Homo sapiens: one gene and its partners. The protein of the gene in region 1 interacts with the protein of each later gene in a biochemical or structural test. Each region holds a gene or a part of one and is shown on either strand. Other genes may lie near its edges.

The links. Proteins that work in one complex are often made in the same cells at the same time.
Region 2: the proteins of TCERG1 (region 1) and ABI1 form a complex in vitro, tested with the Homo sapiens proteins (one study listed by BioGRID).
Region 3: the proteins of TCERG1 (region 1) and DIAPH2 form a complex in vitro, tested with the Homo sapiens proteins (one study listed by BioGRID).

The regions. Positions count from the first base shown.
Region 1 is NC_000005.10:146,457,326-146,464,351, reverse strand, and holds part of TCERG1 (transcription elongation regulator 1), read right to left. Parts: coding exon 7,017-7,026; intron 5,469-7,016; coding exon 5,015-5,468; intron 2,335-5,014; exon of another isoform or gene 2,256-2,334; intron 802-2,255; coding exon 559-801; intron 1-558. UniProt on the Homo sapiens protein: Transcription factor that binds RNA polymerase II and inhibits the elongation of transcripts from target promoters. Regulates transcription elongation in a TATA box-dependent manner.
Region 2 is NC_000010.11:26,752,950-26,759,975, forward strand, and holds part of ABI1 (abl interactor 1), read right to left. Parts: intron 6,290-7,026; coding exon 6,113-6,289; intron 2,793-6,112; coding exon 2,706-2,792; intron 1-2,705. UniProt on the Homo sapiens protein: May act in negative regulation of cell growth and transformation by interacting with nonreceptor tyrosine kinases ABL1 and/or ABL2. May play a role in regulation of EGF-induced Erk pathway activation. Involved in cytoskeletal reorganization and EGFR signaling.
Region 3 is NC_000023.11:96,680,158-96,687,850, reverse strand, and holds the start of DIAPH2 (protein diaphanous homolog 2), read right to left. Parts: upstream 3,010-7,693; 5' UTR 2,793-3,009; coding exon 2,661-2,792; intron 1-2,660. UniProt on the Homo sapiens protein: Could be involved in oogenesis. Involved in the regulation of endosome dynamics.

The sequences.
Region 1 (7,026 bases):
AGTATTAACATAGTTATTAAAAGCTTACTATCTGGATGTGGAGGGCACAGGCTCAAATCTCAACATCATCACTTATTAGCTATGTGACCTTGGGCAAGTAATTTAACCTGTCTGTGTACCTATCTCGTAACATGGGTTGTAAAAATTAAAGGAGTTAATGCATGTAACATGCTTACAACAGTGCACTGTATATAAATCATCCAACTTGTGTTAGCTATTGTGACGTGATTTCTCAACTTCATAAACTCAACCCTTCAAAAATATTGCATTTAGAACATTATTTACATGAAAAGATAATCATTTTTAACTCATTGAGGGCATTATCCAAAATAAGTGTAGCTTTAAATGTGGCTCTAATTTTAGGACATGTAAACAACAACAAAAAAAGGACATTTACCAAAACTTAAGAGAAAATATTGCAGTTAGCCATGAATCTTTCAAAAACGTTTCAAACAGGTGAGATTCAAGGCAAATTTCAAACGCAACAGACACATGAGAACAAACTAACTGACAATATGAAAACATAGCTGGAAAGACCATTATAATCTGTTGGTTTACCTGGAAGTGGAATTGGCATGCCAGGAAGGGGAACACGAAACGGAGGTACCATTACTGGTGGAAAAGCAGGTATTGCTGTTGTTGGCTGAGGTACTGAATGAGGAACAGCAGGAGGTAACGTCTGAGGGTGCGGCTGGGGAACGGTTTGCACAGGTGTGGCTGTAGGAGCAGGAGTTGAAACACTAACTGTAGGCGTGGCAACTGAAACAGCAGAACTTGGGGTCTGATCTTGTGTTGTGGGTGCTGATAAAAGATAAAACAAAAACATGTATCACTCCTTCATAAATCATTTTACTATATTCATTCATCATTTACACATTCAGTAATTTAAGTATTTAAGGGACCATTCTATGCACTGCAAGAAATTTGTCAAAAGGTCTTATCTTCAAGAAGCTTGAAAATACTTAAATGAAATACAAAAATGAATACAAAGTAAAATGGGATAAACATATAGGAGTAAAAATCAAGACCCAAAGAACATTTCTAACTGTGAGAGGGTATAGAAAAGTTTATATTGGGATGCTGCGCCTTGAAAAATTAAGATTTCAACAAGAAAAACAGCAGGAAGGGGTAGAAGAAAAAAATAAACCAGTGAGAAAAGTATGAATAAGGCAAAGAGTAAAGAACCAAAAGGAATTGTTTAGAAAATTGAAGGCAAGCAATTAATGAGTGAAACAGTAGGCATACCAACAAAACTAGTGAGTTGTGTGGCTGGAAAGGTAGGCCAGAAGCAGAAATTAGAAAGCCTTGAACAAAAGGCTAAGGAGTATGCCCTTAAATGGATAGGAAAAGGGCAGAACTTAGGTAAATATAGAGAAAATTATCTAGTAGAATACAAGACAAAATACATTAATGGTAGTTACCCTCTGTGAATGCCTCTTTCACATTTTACTATTAATATATACGTTTTGTTAGACTTTGAACTTTTTATAAGAATGCATTCACATTATTTATGTGATTTCATGAAGGTAAATGGGTATATAGCAAACTAAAGGTTCCTGTATGGAAGAGTAATAAACAGGTTTCATTTGATGAATTAACCTCACAGATGCATAGGAAGAAAAGAACAGAAAAAGATAAGCAAATAACTAATGACTAACTGGATATGAATGAATGGAATCAAAAACAACTCAGGTTTCTCTCATTATTTTAAAAAAATAAAATTTTTTTAAACTGAGGTTTCCATTGTGAGAGACCAGGAAAATGTGAAATTCAGGATCATTTGGGTTCTGCTAACACATTATTTTTAAATATCGAAAATAAAACATCCCATTCCTAGTAATTGCATTTAAAATCAAACTAAAAACTAAAATCCTTATTTCATACTTTTCAGTTTCAATTCTCACATGTTACAAAACAATTTTGTTATTTATTCATAACCCATCTAGTTCCAAAATAAAATTCATTTTGGTAATTCATTGGTAACAAATACTTCATCTTTTTTTGATGTAAAGAAAAAAATGTCTACCTGTATCGGACTAAGAATGAATTTGTCAAATGAAATAAAATGAAAACAGTGCTTTCCCAATCTTTATGCCAACTTTGTTCTAAACAAAAGCACACTATTTAATACAAATCACCCAATAATCCAACTGACAACAAAATCTGTCAGTATCTTTTTCTAGCTTCTAATAATGAAAAACTCACTTAGGCTGGGAAGATGTGAGCAATTTCGTACTTGTTAATGAGGGACTCACCTTGGCTAAATAGACAGCAGGGCCAAACAAGTATCTTCAGGGGCCCAGGAATGAATTGTTGGTCTAGCATAGACCTAGCCTTAGGGTACAGTATCATATTAATATAATTTTATAACAGTGTGAAAAATACAAAGTACATGCAACATTTGCCCAGTCCCATACATATACCATTTAGCATTTGTAATCTACTATACTGGCTGAAAATGTATCTGGTCATTGTTCCCAACTTCCCTGAGAAGTAGGATTTCTTCATCATTTTTCACAAACTTGCACAAAATGAGTTTATGCTCAACTGGGATTAAAATATATTCTTAATTTTTAGTCCCATTTACCCCACAGATCTATACTGTAGCTCAGAAAATTAAAATTTAAATATTATTATAGTATTCAGATAATTGCTAAAATTGTGATCCAAAGTACTATAGTCAGGAAAATAAATAAGGGCATCAAATTTCAAGTGGAAAAGAACACCAATGGAGATGACAAAAAATATTTACAACCCATTCCTCTTACTTTCCAGCACAGCATTTTCTGAATTTGATTAGCAGCCATGAGTCACGACAGGAAAAGAACAAAAGCAATAAAATAATGGGAAACTGGGAGAATGGTATCTAAGACTTCAGTGGGTAAATTCCCACTAACTTCATTTGCTAAAGTAGCTAGTGAAGCACTAGGCCTCAAAATATACTAACCCAGCCTCAGATCTTAACTAAAAAAGACAAGTGACTATATATAATAGATGGAGAAATATTAAGATTGCAGTAAGACAACACTTTATGATACTAAATCAAGTAAAATAAAAACACACACTGGAATACGTAGACAACATCAAAATTGATGTTTAAAAGCAGTAAAAAGAATATGATTTTGCTATATTATATTTCTGGGAATAAAGTCCTCCCAATCACTGAAGAGTAAAGCAAAACTGACAAACAGGACACAAGACAGCTATGAGCTTACTGACACACTACTCTGAAAACAGACATGGACTATATATAGTATGGTTAAATTATCTAGCTCATCACCTTTCCTAAAACAAAACGAAGCACTACTATTTCTCCTTTCTAAGAACGCAGGAAAGAAAATGTAAGCAACACAGAGCCTCCACATAAAACTACATTGCTTTTATTAATCCCCTTCTCCCATTACTACCACAGGTCTCCCATAAAAACTGGTAGTCTCCTGCCTTGCCACAGAGGTTTGGGAAGCACTAAACCTATAAAAAGGTAACAACCCTTAACAGACTAGCTAGTATGACTGTTATACTTTCATATCAAAATTCACCTTCACTACAAAAGCAAACAGATTTGTAAAACACTATTCATATTTTCCTGTTCAGTACATTCCCCCGCTACAAAATGTCTAAAAACCATTAAGAGGATCTTTAAAGGCTATCCCCATATTATATGTACCTTACTTGACTGCTTCAGTTGCTTTTTATCAATAAAATAAATTCAAATTTGAAGCCAATGTGAATTAATTTCTCTCTTATACGTATTTCTTACACACTAATAATTCCCAAGTCCCTGAAGTAATCACAAAAAAACCCCACATTTTTTCTTTATTCTTATCAATTATCCTGGTAGTAAAATAATACAAATTATAATCACACTGTAGGGACAGCTGTGTATCTTGAGACAAGTGCCATAACAAATAATCAAATAAAAAAATCATTATTTAAGTACTTTCGGGCTTAGTCTCAACCTGCAGAGTAAGGAGCAACATCCATATATTGATACAAAAAAAAAAAGAAAAAAGAAAAAAAGAAAGAAACCCCCCAAAAAGAAAGCAATATTGTCACATTAATAACAATCTTTTAAGCAAATTAATAGCTGTGTCCCTCTCTTAATCTCTGAAATCTGCTATTAATCGACTCTCACCTTTTCAGAAAAGATCTACTCTTTGGGCCTCTGTGAGTTTACACCTGAAAATTCTCCTGCCTTTCTGACTGCTCCCTTCTATGGCAACTCCTCAATTCACCTACTCGCATCCCAGTCTAGAAACTATTCTAAAAGAGATTACTGAGAAGCTCCTAATAAACCTCCCTTATTTCATCACCACCCAAAAAACCAACACCAAAAAAAATCCTCCAAAATACTGCATTTATACAGGCCCCCAGTGCCTGTCTCACCTATTTGCCTAGTTCTTAAGACCCTTCAAAAAAAACACCCTCTCACCTCAGAAGTTTCCTAAAAACCCATAAACTACATTTATCATTTTCCTGACCTTTATTCATGTTGCTTCTCCTACCTGAAAATCCTTTCCTTACCTGTGAACCTGCTTAAACCCTACTCCGTTTCCTTCATGATAAATACCCATGTAGTCCACCCACTCATTTATCCACTTCTCAAATTCTTACATCTTTCTCACTGTATAGTTTTGCACACCAATATCTAATTGTTTAACACGTGTTATTCTTGCCTCCTCGATTAGGAATACTGGAAACTGTAAGGTAGGGACCAAGACTTACACTTATTTTGCAAACCCACAATGCCCGGCATTACTGTTGGCCAAGTGGAACAGCTAACTTTGCACTTTCTCAATTTAGCTTCATAAACTGCAACTGGGCAAATAATTTCTCCTGTTAATATAAATTCCTGTTTTCCTCTAACCCAAAAGTTTTAGTGTCAAAAATGTATTTTAAATAATTCTGGTATTAAAGGATAATACCAGAAACACTGGGATCAATATGAAATGTAGTCCCCTACTTGTTCATGTCTCTAGCCCCTATATAAAAACACATGCTGAGTGGTACTCACTTGATACTGTCTGCGCAACTGAAGTAGCAGTTGTTGTGGTAGAAGTGGTAGAGGAAGGGGTGGATGATGATGTTGAAGTGGATACTGCAGGTGCTGGGCTACTGGTCGTAGGGGTGGAAGCTCCAACTGCTTGTGCTTGCACTTGTGCCTGGACCTGGGCCTGGACCTGAGCCTGGGCCTGGGCCTGAGCTTGTGCCTGAGCCTGAGCCTGGGCCTGGGCTTGGGCTTGGGCCTGGGCCTGGGCCTGGGCCTGGGCCTGGGCCTGAGCCTGAGCCTGGGCCTGAGCTTGTGCCTGGGCCTGAGCCTGCGCCTGGGCCTGAGCCTGCGCCTGGGCCTGAGCCTGAACCTGTGCCTGGGCTGCAAGCATAGGTGTCAGTTCTGATTGCTGAATAACCTTAACTCCATCTGGCTTGGTCCATGCAGATTCACGTGTCCGAGCATTATAATAATAAACCTGCAGCGGAAGCAAAAATCAATGGTATCATAAAATCTGTCAGTTATTATTAAAAACAAGAATGGAACCATATTTTATCTTTAAAGCTATTTAAAAATAACGTAGGGCCAGGCGTGGTGGCTCATTCCTGTAATCCCAGCACTTTGGGAGGCAGAGGCAGGTGGATCACTTAAAGTCAGGAGTTCAAGACCAACCAGCCTGGCCAAAATGGTGAAACCCCATCTCTACTAAAAATATAAAAAAATTAGCCAGGTGTGGTGGCCGGCATCTGTAATCCCAGCTACTCGGGAGGCTGAGGCAAAACAATCACTTGAACCCAGGAAGTGGAGGCTGCAGTGCGCCGAGATCATACCACTGCACTCCAGCCTGGGTGACAGAGGGAGACTCCATCTCAAAAATAAAAAATAGCTGGGCGCGGTGGCTCACACCTGTAATCCCAGCACTTTGGGAGGCTGAAGTGAGCAGATCACCTGAGGTCAGGAGTTTGAGACCAACCTGGCCAACATGGTAAAACCCTGTCTCTACTAAAAATACAAAAATTTAGCTAGACGTGATGGCAGGCGCCTGTAATCCCAGCTACTTGGGAGGCTGAGGAAGGAGAATCACTTGAACCCGGGAGGCGGAGGTTGCAGTGAACCAAAGATCGCACCACTGCACTCCAGGCTGGGTGACAGCACGAGACTCCATCTCAAAAATAAAAAAATAAAAAATAAAATAAAATAAAATAACTTAGGGCCAGGCACAGTGGCTCACGCCTGTAATCCCAGCACTATGGGAGGCCAAGGCGGGTGGGATTACCTGAGGTCAAGAGTTCGAGACCAGCCTGGCCAACATGGTGAAACCCTGTCTCTATTAAAAATACAAAAATTAGCCGAGCATGATGGCAGGTGCCTGTAACTCCAGCTACTCAGGAGGCTGAGGCAGGAGAATTGCTTGAATCCAGGAGGCAGAGGTTGCAGTGAACCAACATTGCACTACTGCTCTCTAGCCTGGGCGACAGGGTGAAACTTCCATCTCAAAAAACAAAAACAAAACAACAAAAATAGGTAATTCCACCCCACAGCCCAATTTTCTATAATGAGCACAAAGGAAAACCCATGTTATGTTTTATGCAGAAATTCAACATAACAGACCTGAGACAGCTATCTGTAGAAAGCCCTGCTGACCCTTATCTGGAGTCCAAGAACTTGGATTTCAGGAGGGTTGACATTCCCTTACTGATAAGAATGGCTCGATGTGCCTAAACCAGCTACGCTGAACACCTGCTTTCCTTCTAGGAGCCTGGAATTTGGTATGTGCTAGGCAGATGGTACCAATGTGACCAGAAGCTTCCAGAATCACAGGTAAATGTGTGTTAGCACTCCAGGCAACCTTATATCTGCTGCACAAAAACTAAATCCAGTCAGCTTCTCCTGAAGTCTTACCCCATTCCCTGCTCACCCAGGGCTCATTCTTAAATGACAGTATCACTGACCTCAATCTGCCAGAACTCTTTAAGTTTTACTCCTCTGTCAACAAATGACAACTTAAATATATTTTATTATTTACCTTCCCATCT
Region 2 (7,026 bases), on another chromosome or scaffold:
TACAAACATACTAAATCAAATGCCAATTTCTGGGGCTATTTACGTGATCAAAGAAATCAGCCATAATCTATCTGTCATATAGGTTTAAACGTTTAGTCTACCCTCCTTGGAATAATGTGCTGAATATACAACCAAGGGCTCCAGGTTTAAAATATTTGCAGATAATGACCCTATTTCCATAACCACTTCAATGCTGTGATTTCTATTTTATCCTCTCGAGGGATGAAAGGGCTATTAGAAAACAAACCCTATATGGTAATGCTCACTATAACACCTATCAAACGGGTCTACAATTAATTTTTCTGCCTCATTCCTAGATCCATTTTATCTTTGCCCATAACTTCCTCTATAAAACTTTTTAATATTATTGAGGAGAGGAAAATGGGTACAGACCCCTCCTGACATCAAACAGCCATAGTTCATATCCTTAATTTGGCTTAATGTGTAAATTATGTATGTTGGTACCTTGCATTTACTCTTGATTTATCACATTAGTTTAATGTTTTCACGAAATTGTCTTTATGTCCAACTGCTGTAAATCTACATGTCTTATCTTCAAATTATGGCGAAGGAAGTCTTGGTTAATCTAATTCTCTGCATAATCATAAAGAGATGTAAACACACTGCTGACTTTTTTAGAGGCTCATATCTTAAACTGAAATACTTATTAATAGGCTGCTACATGCATTCATTATCACCCACTTTGAGTGTCATAAGAAACTGGGTATTTAAGAGAACACATAAAATTTGTACTTCATAAAACGTTTAAAGTACTGATACATATTTTAACACCAATCCTCCTAACACACTTTCAAAGAAAACAGAAACCAAATAAAGTTAGGGAATCTGTGGCACAAGGAGAATCACTGACTGACCCAAGTTCATATGTTTGGTAAAAAGAACTAATATAGTACCAAGAGCCTCTTTAGCAAAGACCACACATGCCTAGAATAATGTACACTAATACTGGATTTCTATATAAAGAAAAGATTTACCAAATAGCTAGTCAGTCACTTTGGACCCACAAAACTGATGTTCATTATGGCTATTTTAAATTATTTCCTAATAATTCTTACTGATATGGCAGTTCAAAAGTTTACACTGGCCTTGTTTTTAAACTCTGCAGCATTAATGACCAGCAGTTTACCCTTACTCATTTATTTTTAAAAATAAGATTCACATCTATCTATCCATCCATCCATGCATTTATTTATTTTTGCACTCTATTTATTTTTGCACGTCTAGGCTGGAGTGCAGTAGTGTGATCATGGCTCACTGCAGCCTTGACGTCCTGGACTCAAATGATGCCCCAGCCTCAGCCTACCTGGTAGCTGGAACTACAGGCACATGCCACTACACCTGGCTAATTTTTTATTTTTTTGTACAGACAGTCTTGCCATGTTGCCCAGGCTGATTATTCATATCTTTTTAAATGTTTGCACACATTAGGGTTTTCAAACACATATTAACAGTAAGGATGGCTTACACTCAGAAATTTCAACATTACAAAACAACATTTTATAACAAGCCAATTGGATCACACATTTCCTGAAGGAAGGGGCTTTTGTCTTAAACTGCTGGTATTCTTCCCGGAGTCTGGCACGTAACATCGGGTACACAAATATTTGACTGGCAGGAGGGAGGGAATGGGGAGAATAACACAACAGGGTCAGCAAAAGCTGAAGAATGGAATTTGCCACAATATATTTTCTTGGAGGATAGGCTGGGCAAGTGGGTTATTCATTTGTTCAAACCATCCTGAGATTTATTTTCATGGTGATGGTCCAAATGAAGTAAATTAAAAATAGACCACATTACCATCAACAGCTTTTCTAGCATATTATAATTCAGTAATAGTGGTATTTTTCACTTTATATAAGATTCACTGTGATCATGCAGTTAGGATTACACATCTTCTGGAATTTCAAAAGTAATCAGGCAGTAATATAAACTAGTCTATCCTGATTAAAGCCATATATCCAAAATAACTTCTCCCCCCCCACAAAAAAAAATCCCTGAACTTCATTCGAGAGAAGATCTAAAAAAGTTAACTGATTTTCATATTCAGGAACAATCTTCGTGGGCCTGGATGTAGCCAAAATGTGAAAAGGATGCTAAATTGCTTATCACTCACACTGAAATGGATAGCATGAATGTAATTTACTTATTCCTGGTCATTCAATCTTATCCTAACAATGAACCTTTACGTAGGTTCAATATCATGTATGTACAAAAATCTGAGGCTACAAAGCTTTCCCTAAAATTTTGAAATTAAGGGGGGAAAATCTGCCCCAATTTCATATTAAATTTAATCTTACAGTATATCTACCTATCTCTTGATAAATTTATTAGAATTAAAAATGTCTTCTAATTCTAGTAACTGTTAGAAGCTAAAAGTTTCCATATAATTTGAATTTTTGTGTTTGATTATTCTTTCCTTAAGAATATGTAAAGATCAGATCTCCTGTTTTAGGATCATGTAAAGACATAAGAAAATTGCAGCTTTGAAATTTATATGGGTCAGTAACCATGCACACAAAGAGAAAAAACTGAAGACCGTGCTCTTCAGTTTCAGTAACATGTCTGCACCTATTTTCAAGATTAGCTTCTCAATAAAAGTAAGGAAAACGATGACTCATCGTCAGCCATGCATGCTATAAGGAGACAGCCTCTACTCTTCCATAGCTCAGTTTTTCCAAACTTACTGTTTTCCTGCACCCTGGCCACGAAGCCTGTGAGAGGTATCTGTGGAGTCAACTGAGGCATAGGGGGAGGGGGTGGAGCAATAGAAACTGGTAGCAACAACACAGTATGGGGGAAGTAAAACAGATAAAGGAAAGAAAAGGAAACAAACAAAAAGCAGAAGTCAGTTACAAGGACCACAAACATAAGTATGCAAAGAACAGTTTGCAAATGAAACAAAACAAAACAAAAAACAAAACAAAAACCTGCAGAACCTTGGAGTACATTTCCCACAAGCAAACCTAAAGGCCAAGTTGTGCTTAGCCAATTAATTAATTTTATAAAAGAACAAATATACTTAATTCAATCCTAATGTTACATTGTTTGGGGAGGATTTAAATTTACCATCACATTCACTTTAGTAAAATAAAATTTTCAAATTCTAAGGAAAGACTTCTAAAATAGGTAACAATGAAATACCTACATAGGTTTCCAGAATATTGTGTCTTTGCCATAGCTATAACAGGTTTGTCTAGCTTTAAGGTAATGTTGTAAATTAGGACCCAAATAAATAAAACAAATATATAATAGCTATTTATTTCATATATCAATAAAAATATTAATCACAGGTTTCCTTTAAAGACAGTTCTTATTATATATCTAAATTCACACACAGCTCTCCAGGAAAAACTCTTGTTTGTAAAACAAGGTTGTTATTTTTTTAAGTTGGCAATTTTATGTTTAAAAATATCAGTCCTAAATTTACAAGGGAATATATCATGTTAATCAGTCAGAGTTTCATGGGATATCTCAAAAGTGACCTTTTCATCACTGTTCTGAAAAAGGAAACCTGATCTCCAATAAGTTAAAATACGTAGTTCTTTGCATTAAAGTAATTTTTAACAACTCATTGGATAGCTTGAAACACATTCATATGCATTTGTGGAGATGACATAATTGACAGGAAATTAATACCAAATACTCATGTATTAAAAATTATAACATACACTAGAAGTAAACATTCATATGTTTGTGACTTTGTCTCACTTTAACAAGACAGTAATTGCCAAAGATTGCTTAGAAAAAGTCAGTAGGACTAGATAGCAAAATTTAGTCTATCGGTAGTCACCAAGTAGTAACACTAAATTGATAGAGAAAAACAATTTATTGGTTACCAAGGATTAATCAAAAGGTTGTTTCAATTAATCCAACATGCAAATTCTGTTGGTAAGCATAAAAATTTGAAAGAAGTTCAGTGTTCAAAGAAGTAACAAAGCAATTATGTGCATTAATATTCATTGTATAGCTAAAGATAACATTCAATTCACTATGAAAGCAATCCTATTTCATTCTAATACTCTATAGAAGGCTCCTAAATAAAAGGTTAGAGGTTTTGACTTAAAAAACAAAAAACTCTCACAAACCTAAAAAAGTGTTTAGAAACAACTCTTAGTAACTAGCCATGCTGGTTAGTATGTAATGAAAAAGAAAAGCTATGCTGTGAAGATACTAATCATTACTACATTTAGACAGAAGGGAAAATGTGCACATCAAAACACTAAAAACATTCACGTACTACTACTACTACTACTACAACACCAACAGTAACTCAGATTGAAGGATAATTAATTTGACAAAACATAATAATTTATTTAAAATCTGAGGCCAAATTTGCTTTCCAATATTCAAAAGAATGTGGTCATTAATTAAAGTATACGGTTTGAAAATAATCCACACAAGCATTGCTAAAATAAAACTATAAAACTATGTATTATATAAAAAAGTCACAAAAATCCTATTTGCAGAGTAAATTAAATGTCTAAGTGGGGAAAAGAAAAATAATACACAAAAAGATGGGATCTAAAAATTCAGAATATGAAAAAAATAAAGTTGATGAAACAAGTGAAGTGAATTATTAGATAATCTGGAATATTTAGACAGACACTGGCTACCTTTTGATACCAAATGTTAGGTAAAATCCTATTTAGTGAAGTTTAACACTTCTCAGTAGCTTTAATATTTTAGTCTGGAAAAAAAGCTATATAAATTTTGGGATTATTTGTGAATTTTGATATTTCTGATAAAGTGGTTTTCAATTCTTAGGAATTTTTGCTATAACATAATTTATGTTTAAAATTTAAACAAAAAACTAATGAGAACTTTCAGTGGCTCACGCCTGTAATCCCACCACTTTGGGAGGCTGAGGTGGGTGGATCACCTGAGATCAGGAGTTCGAGACCAGCCTGGCCAACATGGTGAAATGCTGTCCCTTCTAAAAATACAAAAATTGGCTAGGTGTAGTGGCAGGCGCCTGTAATCCCAGCTACTCAGGTGGCTGAGGCAGGAGAATCGCTTGATCCTGGGAGGGTGAGGTTGCAGTGGACCGAGATCGCGCCACTGCACTCCAGCCTGGGCGACAAGAGTGAAACTCTGTCTCAAAAAAAAAAAAAAAAAAAAAAAAAACTTTCCCCTAGCTCTGCTTTAAAATACATATACAGGTCATTCATTATAAATAAAAAGAACTTAAAGCAACCTCCTATGTAAATATGGAGAATTCACTGAGTATTAAGTGTTTTTATATAAACAAAAATAACATGTGGCTCTAGAAAGAGCCACAAAAGCCATGTAGGAAAGCTTGTCTCATTCTATGCCCAGTGGGCACAACTTTTTAAGCTAAAAGCAAACAGTGGACAACAGGTTCATTTCTAATTTTGTTTTTTTTCCTTTTTGCATTGAACATCTTAATATGGAAAGTGATATTAATGACTACCCTACACTATTCTAACTTCCTAACATTATATGCTAAAACTATTTTCTTTTCTTACCAGCTTTTAAACACTGACTGCAATTAGTGTTGAGATGTGCAATTTGAGGTAAACAGAAAGAAATCAAAAGAAATTCCCACCATTAGAATTATTCAAAGACAGAGTAATTAAGCAGGCATCACAAACAGTTTTAATCGGTTTTGAACTCATTTCTGAACACGTTAATGACCTTAAAAGTGATAGCCAGCAATTTCATTATATTAATTTGAAGGAAAACTTTGACAATGTTTGTGTCTTTAATTTTACCATTACTACGCTGTCTCAAACATGCCAATAAATTCAGTTTATTTCTGCAATGTTTTTGTTCTCTAGTTCTACTTATGTAATAAAATCGCATATTAAAGTTAAATTTTGGTATACTCAATATAGACACGTCTCGATAAATTTAGTTAAGTATACTTGGTAAGTCTAAATTTTGGAAGAGAAAGTGGTAAACAATTACTCTTAAAATGGTATGATTCAAGGACTAATATCCTAAAACAAAAATAAACATGAAACATCATGGTTTTCAATTGTTGTCTATCACTGGCAAGAATAACAGTTTCAAATAATTTCCTTCAAAAGGAGCTCCACTGTTGCTGTATGCCTGCAAAGCACAAGCTTACTTGAATTTTGAGAATAAAGTGGACCTCCATTAACATGAGGCTGAGCAGAAAATTGAGCAGTCACAGAGGGAGTTCGTCTGTATCCACCAGAAGATGTCGAAGAAGTAGTAGAGTTGTGTCGAGATATCTGCCTGGTCATTGTGCCATACTGGGAACCAGGAGCTGAGCCCGGGGCTGCTGAAAAGCATTAGTCAAAGGCAACCAACAAAGAGACTTGAGCATTGTAATCACCTTAGATGGCAGAACAAAGCAGGAGGGGGCCTCAGTAAGAAATATTTATTACTTTTTCAAGACCAAGGCACAAAATAAAGAGAAAAGTAAAGATAAAAATCAGTAACTTTATCTCCAAAGTCAAAAACAGAGAGAAAAAAAAACAGCTGCATGGAAAGCTGCAAAAGTAAATAAGTAATATTCTCAAGCTTTTAAAAACCATAATCCCAAATGGTACTTTGCTAATATGATATATAAATTTTTTGTGCATTTTCAAATACATAGCTTTTATATGTAAATTGTCTTTCCAATAAAATAAGTACCAAAAGATGGTGTGAGGTAGGAAGCATCAGTCTTTAGATATAAGTAGATTCATGTCTGAGTTACAAATTTCTTCCTTTCCACTGACAAAACTTTCAGAATTTTGATTTGGCTAGATAGAGTCTTATAATGATAAGTCTCTATCTAGCCAAATCCAAGTTAAACAATAAATTTTTATTTACTAATATTTTTGAGTTTTTATTGAATTAGCAGTTATTAGTATCAATACATATTAAGTAAAATCATTTTTAAGAAATGTGCCATTTCTCGTTTCAAAGCACTTTCATGTAATGTCAGATTTGTTGTAGATCTCCAAAGTTTTAAGATTAACATACATTTTCCCTATTAAATTTTTATAACTGACAGAAGCAGAAAATTTTTTG
Region 3 (7,693 bases), on another chromosome or scaffold:
TCAAAACAAAAGGGTCATTATGAGGATGCTTATATGAAAAAAACTGAAGTGAATTCCATTAAATTTTTATTTAAGTAATCTTAAATAGAAATCATTATAGTGTTGAAATGCCACTCTGAAAAATTTCTCACTAATACTCATTAAAAAGTTGAGGATATAAATGAAAGCAGTTCCTCTCTATAGAAAATCTGCTTTCCAGGCTGACCAACATGGTGAAATCCCGTCTCTACTAAAAATACAAAAATTAGCTGGGTGTGGTGGCACGTGCCTGTAATCCCAGCTACTCAGGAGGCTGAGGCAGGAGAATCACTTGAACCCGGGAGGCAGAGGTTGCAGTGAGCCAAGATCGCGCCACTGGACTCCAGCCATGGCAACAGAGCGAGACTTCGTCCCAAAAAAAAAAAAAGAAAAGAAAATATGTGTTCCATTTCCATTTTTCCAGAATTCTGAGGAACTAAATGAAAACAACCAAACTACACAAGCCTTATACCTTATGAATCCATTATACTGGAGCGACTGAATTAATTTTCCTCTGTAGCGGAAATTTTAATCTATGTAGACATTGAGTAGTTAACTTCTTTTTTACCACTAGAAGAATTCGTTTCAATATCAATCACCTGTGTGGTCAATGCCATTTCCCCTTCTTCCCTACTCAGTAACTTAGAGTGGAATCAACTATTCTTTCCTTTACTTTCTATCTTTTGTAATGCCATAGTTCTTACTCTTCTATAGGTAATGGATGCCTTTGAAAAACTGATGAAAGCCATGGGGCCCAGAAAAATAAATGTACCCATATACACTCAAATATTTTCATACAATTTCAGGAGTTTAAGAACCCCTATGCCCCAAGATCACCTACACAAATAATTTCTATCACCATATGGCTCTCTTTTATAATCCCATACCACAACTCCTTTACACTCATATACACACACAAATTAAGGACTAGTTCAGAGATTATTAACATAATACTCAAAATAAAAAAATTTCATCTAAGTAAAGTTGTATCTTACTAGCAAACTTCTAAGAATCCCAGATGAATTCTTTCCTGAAAAGCTTACTAAATCTTACTGTTTGGTCAACTTGCTTGCCTTAAAATGTGCCACAATGTCTTCCTAAATTTGTTTTTGTTAACTCTGACACATCTGCTTGTAAAATCACGTAAGGCTCAAAAGTTATGTTTGAGCAAAAAAAGAAAATTCATGTTAATATTAACAAACTCTTGGATTCAAATCTTGTTCTACCGTATCAAGCTATGTTCAACACGGAACAGTGAAGTTAGCTAGGAACCGGAACAGTGAAGTTAGCTAGGAACTGAAAATGATACGATCTCATAACTATCTAGTTACCTTGTCAAAGCAAGTAAAACATAAAAGATGAATCAGGACAAATGGCTAAAGGGAAGAGAAGAATATAATCAAGGTGTTACTACTAACAGAGATAAGTGTTTTTTTTTTTCTCGAAAGCATACTTCTTAAAAGTGGCAGATTCTTGCTAGACGTACCAAACCATTTGTGGAAACTATCAGTTAACTTTTTACTTAAATTTTTAATCACTGATTAAACCACAGTTTTGTACTGGATCCAAACCAAATGGCCAGATGCCATAAGAAACGGCTTTATTTATATGTCACCCTCTCCTTGTCTATTATAATCAAGTTGGTAGTTAAAGCTGAAATCTATACATTCAACATGTGGCTTGTGCTTCGGATCTGGACTAAGAATACAGCTCTAAGGAGTATCTGCTGAATTTGTACAGGAAAACCCTTTCCCCTCACACCACCCAAATTAGAAAGTTTACAAAAAGCGGAACCCTTCTGATGAGCTGAGGAAACTCCAGTATTTCCCAATGCAATACCAGGCCTCATCGATTTCATTCCTCTGCACATTCAGTGGCAGGAAATGGACTGCTACCATCGGTTCACACTATCAGCACGGTGAGATTTGCACAGTTTGTGCCTACTGCTTTTGAGCGTTCTTAATCAACTAAGTGGAAGTACTGTATGACTATGCCTATTACACACACTCGACAGTTGGTGGTACCTCACCCAGCCTCAAACTCCCACGCGCCCCCACCCTTCCAAAGAAACATTTCTTGGGAGAGCACATGGAGAGAGGCAAGGAGGAGGAAAAAGGCACGTAGGCGCCTCTTCCTGAGATTTCTGGTAAAGTAGAAAGACTGGGAGCATAAATAGTGTTCTTCTTGATTTGCGAAGCTGTAGGTGGGCTCCCAAGGACTTGGAATAAAAAGGAGGGAGGTTCCCCTGCCCCGGACCCTACGCGTTAGGAGGCAAAACAGCAACTAACAAGAAGTGGGAGGAGAATGGAATCGCGCAAAGGTTTGCGCCCACAAGTTAGACAAACAACAGCCCTACCCAGTACTCGGGGTGTCCCCAAGTTGGGGCTGGGCCTTTCTCCTTCCCGCACCGCCTCCCGGGCTGACAAGAGTGAGAAAGGGGTTAAGTAGAGAAGGGGGTGCTCTTCCGCCCCCACGCCGTCTCCGCGCCTCGGCGTGGCCACTCCTTTAGCGGCTCCCCGAGTTGCACAGCGAGGTCGCGGTCATCCTTGGGAGGGGGCCCCGGGTGCCCCCGTGTTCAATGGCAGGAGGATCCCGGGGCTCTCCCTGTCCCTAAGGCCGGCGGGGGCTGCGGGAGCACTCACCAATTTGGGTTTGTTTTTCGTTTCCTCTTCATTGGCGGCCCGGTTCCCCGCGCTCCGCTTGTTGCTCCGGCCCCCACCGGGTTCCTCGCTGCCGCCTCCCGCTCCCGACGCCGCCGCCCCGGGCTGCTCCATCTTTCTCCGGCCCTGTCACCTGTGCCCTGTAACCCCACCTCTCCTCAACTGAGAAAGCACCTCGGGGCGCTCACACTGCCCCGCGCTGACTCGGCGGCACCTCTTCCTGAGGGAGAGAGTGTCTGCCCGGGAAGCTGCCGATTTCAGGCCCCCGGGACTCCAGGCTCCCAGGCACCCCCGACGCAACCACGCCGTTGCCACTACTCGGCGCTGGGGCAAGCCCTGCCCCTGAGCAGTTGCAATTACCACGGTCGCCGCCGCCCTCAGGGCGGTGTTTAGGGTGGAGGGAAAAGTAGGTGCCTATCTCTTTAAGAGGGCCTCAACACACGTGATTCTTCAAAGTGCCCGCATCGGCCGCCCGGGCGCGCAAAGCTGCTTCCTACTCCCGCAGCCGAGCCGGCCCCAGCTACTGAGCATGCCCGGCGCGGTGACTGGAGCCTAACAGAGCACTTTCAGCTGCGGTTAGGCACTGATTTCACTTCCTAGTGGCCCAGCGAGAACAGGGAGGGAACTAGTCAAGAGAAAGGAAGGGTAGCCCATTTTAGAGATGGGGAAACTGAGGCCCGGGAAGATCCGCCTGTAAGTTTCACTGGCGGGTCAACCTGAGTATCAGCTTTCACTTCTGTGGGCCACAGCACCTTCCCTCCCTGAGGCCTCTCCGGGGGTGTGGTCCTGCTACAGTCTGTGGAAAGACTTGATTGGCAAGGGAACTGGCATCCTATAGGAAAACCACCGGGAGTGCTGATTAATTGCCTCGACAGACTGTGTGTGGGTCAGAGTGGAAAGAGTGAGTGCTTTCTGTTGTCGTGATTACGTTGTGACCGAAGAAATACAGTTGTTCCTTTATTCCCTTGCTGCAGGGTTGTTGAAGCAGCAGGCGCCCACCGCTTAATCCCTAGGGGATTGTTAGGTTCTATAACCAAAACACTTACATACAGCTAGCAATTGAATTGAGTGCTATTTTCAGGTTCCCGAACTAGTTTAGAGTTGTTGTGGGGAGTGAATAAGATCATGTGTGTCAAAGCTTTGTTGTAAATGAAAATCCCTAGACAAATGCTAGGTGTTTTTGTGCAGCAGCAGGGCACTGTTGGGACGATAGTCTTAAGTCCTTGCGTCATACCTAGCATTTTGTCCTCAGGACAAAATATAGTACCCACACTGTATTTCTTCCATCCTCTTTAAATGATGCCCTTTAAAAGTAAAGGTACACACTGAGAACATTAGACGGGGTGGGTAGGATTTGAATGAACCACCATCATAGAATAGGAGCACATATGCTAGGAAAGCTACCTATAAAGTAAATTTAAATATGAAATCTATAAACATGCCATACACCTATTACTGAAGATATCTCCAGACTATGACTCCTTTTGACCTTCTCCCCTTCGGCCTAAATTTAATATGCTGAATGGAATTTGTATCTGAACATATTTATTGAGAGTGCATTAGGATGCATTTGACCATGCTATAGGTGCAAGGAGACAGCTAACTTGGGCAGTAGAATGAAAAGAACACCAGATATCTGAAAACAGCTTTAATTCTAGCTTTGTCATTGTCATTAACTTTCTTTTTTTTTTAATTCTGAGACAGAGTTTCCCTCTTGTTGCCCAGGCTGGAGTGCAAAGGTGCAATCTCAGCTCACCGCAATCTCCACCTCCCGGGTTCAAGCGATTCTCCTGCCTCAGCCTCCCAAGTAGCTGGGATTACAGGGACCCACCACCACGCCCAGCTAATTCTGCATTTTTAGTAGAGATGGGGTTTCTCCGTGTTGGTCAGGCTGCTCTCAAACTCCTGAGCTTAGGTGATCCGCCTGCCTTGGCCTCCCAAAGAGCTGGGATTACAGGCGTGAGCCACCGTGCCCGGCTGACTTTCTTTTTAATCATGGAGGTGTGACTTCTCTACTCCTAAGGTGGCAAGCTACCAAAGGACAGCAGAGAAGAGGGAATACATGCTCCCAAACAGGGTGCTCAAGGAGCCCCATGGTAACTTTGCTTTGTTGAAGTTCCCGTTTTACTTACTTAAAGTTTAGTGTATATTTTGAATTCAACTCACTACATACACACACACACAAACACAATTTATATAAATGTCTCCTCTCCTGAAAAATTGAGTCAAAATGGGTGCTTCAGAAAGACATGACCTGTTTAGCCAATGCGTAATTCCTGTTTGTGCCATAGGTGTGGTCCATAGCTGAGGGCCCTCCAAGCGCAAACATGGTTCAGTAATCTGCCCAGTAGACATTTCTTCAGCTCCTTAGAGTACACTAGGTGATACAGAGTGTCATGAGTAAGAAGGATGAAGATGACACAGTTTCCGCCTTTTAGAACTTCAGAGCCTACTGGGAGAGACAGACCATTAAAGAACTGCACTGCACTATAACAGATATGAACAGGAAGCCTTTGAAGCACATGAAAGAGGTAACTATCGGAGTGTCAGAGGCTCAGGGACACCTTCCCAAAGAAGATGATGTTTGAGCTGAGTCTTAAGGGTCTGATTCAAGTTAACATTTGTTGGCAGCCTACTAAGTGTGAGGTACTGTGCAAGGCATCATGAGTACAGTGGTGAACAAGACAGACATGGTTTGGTCTTAGGGAGCTTTCATGCTATCGGGAAAGATATATATAGTTTCACTCTTATTGCCCAGGCTAGAGTGCAATGGCGCAATCTCAGCTCACGGCAACCTCCGCCTCCCAGGTTCAAGCGATTCTCCTGCCTCAGCCTCCCGAGTAGCTGGGATTACAGGCATGTGCCACCACGCCTGGCTAATTTTGTATTTTTAGTACAGATTGGGTTTCTCCATATTGGTCAGGCTGGTCTCAAACTCCCGAACTCAGGTGATCCGACTGCCTTGGCCTCCCAAAGTGCTGGGATTACAGGCATGAGCCACTGCGCCCAACCTTGGGAAAGATATTAAAAATGTATTAAGCAATTACAAGGCAAATAAGGACAGTGAAGGGCATTCAGGCAAAGGAAATGACAATAGCATGTGCAGAAGCCCTGTGGTTAAGAAATTGGTGGGGAGCTGGGGAGACTGTTGGCAGGAGAAGCAGCAGAACAGATAAGGAGTTTCCAGATTGAAGCCCCCTACTTAATAAGTTTCATTACTGTTGTTTAAAAAGTGGAAGGGGGTCAGGCACGGTGGCTCACGCCTGTAATCCCAGCACTTTGGGAGGCTGAGGTGGGTGGATCACCTGAGGTCAGGAGTTCGAGACCAGCCTGGCCAACATGGAAAAACCCAGTCCCTACTGAAAATACAAAAATTAGCAGGGCATGGTGGCAGGTGCCTGTAATCCCAGCTACTCAGGAGGCTTGAGGCAGGAGAATGGCTTGAACCCGGGAGGCAGAGGTTGCAGTGAGCCGAGATCATGCCACTGCACTCCAGCCTGGGTGACAGAGCGAGGCTCTGTCTCCATAAAAATAAAAACTAAAAAGTGGAAAAGCAGAATAAGGAGGCCATTGTAATATGAATTACTTCTGTTTAGAACGTATAAATAGACTTGAAAATGTATTGATATTATTTTGAATGTAAGGTTGGGTTTCATCATCCTCAGGCCAGGTTAATCTGCATGTCATATCCAGTTAGAAGTACATGTAAAAGATTGATAATCTTTTCTGCAAAAAATGAAAGTTTGTCCCTGATATGTCTTACATTTGACTTTATTGTGGTTATTTTGGCCCGTCTTAATTCTTGATGTTTTTTTCAGCATTTTGCTCTAGTTAATGTAAACAGTGGTTTAAAAACAAGCAAAAACCTTTCCTTCAGGCTTCAGGGTCATTGGCCTGGCAGAAACTAACACAGGAAAGGAGCCACTGCTCTCGGTAAGGACTCTTTGTCCACTGATTATGAACCAAGCACCTCACCAATTGTGGTCCTACAGCAGATCTCTCTGCATCTGTAATCCTTTATTTTTACCCTCCTGGGTCACACAAATAGGTTGGTGGATGGAACATCTCTTCTCTGATGCTGAAGAAAGAAGGAGGCTACCACCATCAATTGGGATATCAAAACTTAAATGTATGTTAGAACCACTGACCTTGTGGTCTCTCCCTCTGGACTCTCATGAATGTAGCACCCAATCAGCATTTAAAAGCCAGTCCTGGGGGAGACCAATAAAAGGCTACTGGGTTCTGTCTTCAAACTGACCTTAGAGCCATCTATTACCCCTGAGGATTTCTGACCATCCTGATAGTACCCCTCTGAGTTTCTATGTCTCCCGTCTACAGTGTATTCTCATCTGAACAGTCTGTGTCGTTCATAGATGAAACATGGATTTGAAAAAAATGAGAACCACCTCCAAGGTCACAGCAAAATGTTTATGCATTAAAGGATTCCTAAGAATAAGCAGGTATTTACCAGGTATTAAGCAGGTATACTACATGGTTAACACCAAACTAGATGTCCTGCAGATGTTTCTAAAAAATGCCAGATATTCTACTATAATGTCATATTGTCTTTACTGAAGAATCTCCTGTTTTGCAGAATTGCACACCTAAAATAGCAGGGCTTACTGGGAAAATATGGTTAGGAAAGACCACTTAAATCCAATGCAACTTTATAGTCAGAGCACTAATGAAAACAACCATCCTAATAAAAACCACAGATAAATCTCCACTGGCCTTTGCCCCCAGCATCACAGTCATCAATGCTTGGTAGCCTTTATGCTTCCTCCTTCCTGATGTGGATCCTCAAGGGCATTCACTTTTAATAGATGCCATTTTCATCAGAATTAAAAATCTAATTGAGGAGTAGTCAGCTTTTTAAAAACACATGGTGAAAGGTCGTCACAGCTTCATTAGCACGGGACTCACAGCTTCACCAGATAGTTTAATGTTGTTGAAAACTTAGAGGTTGTAGCCACTAAACCAGTCACTACTTATACTGAAGGCAGAGCTTTGTGCAG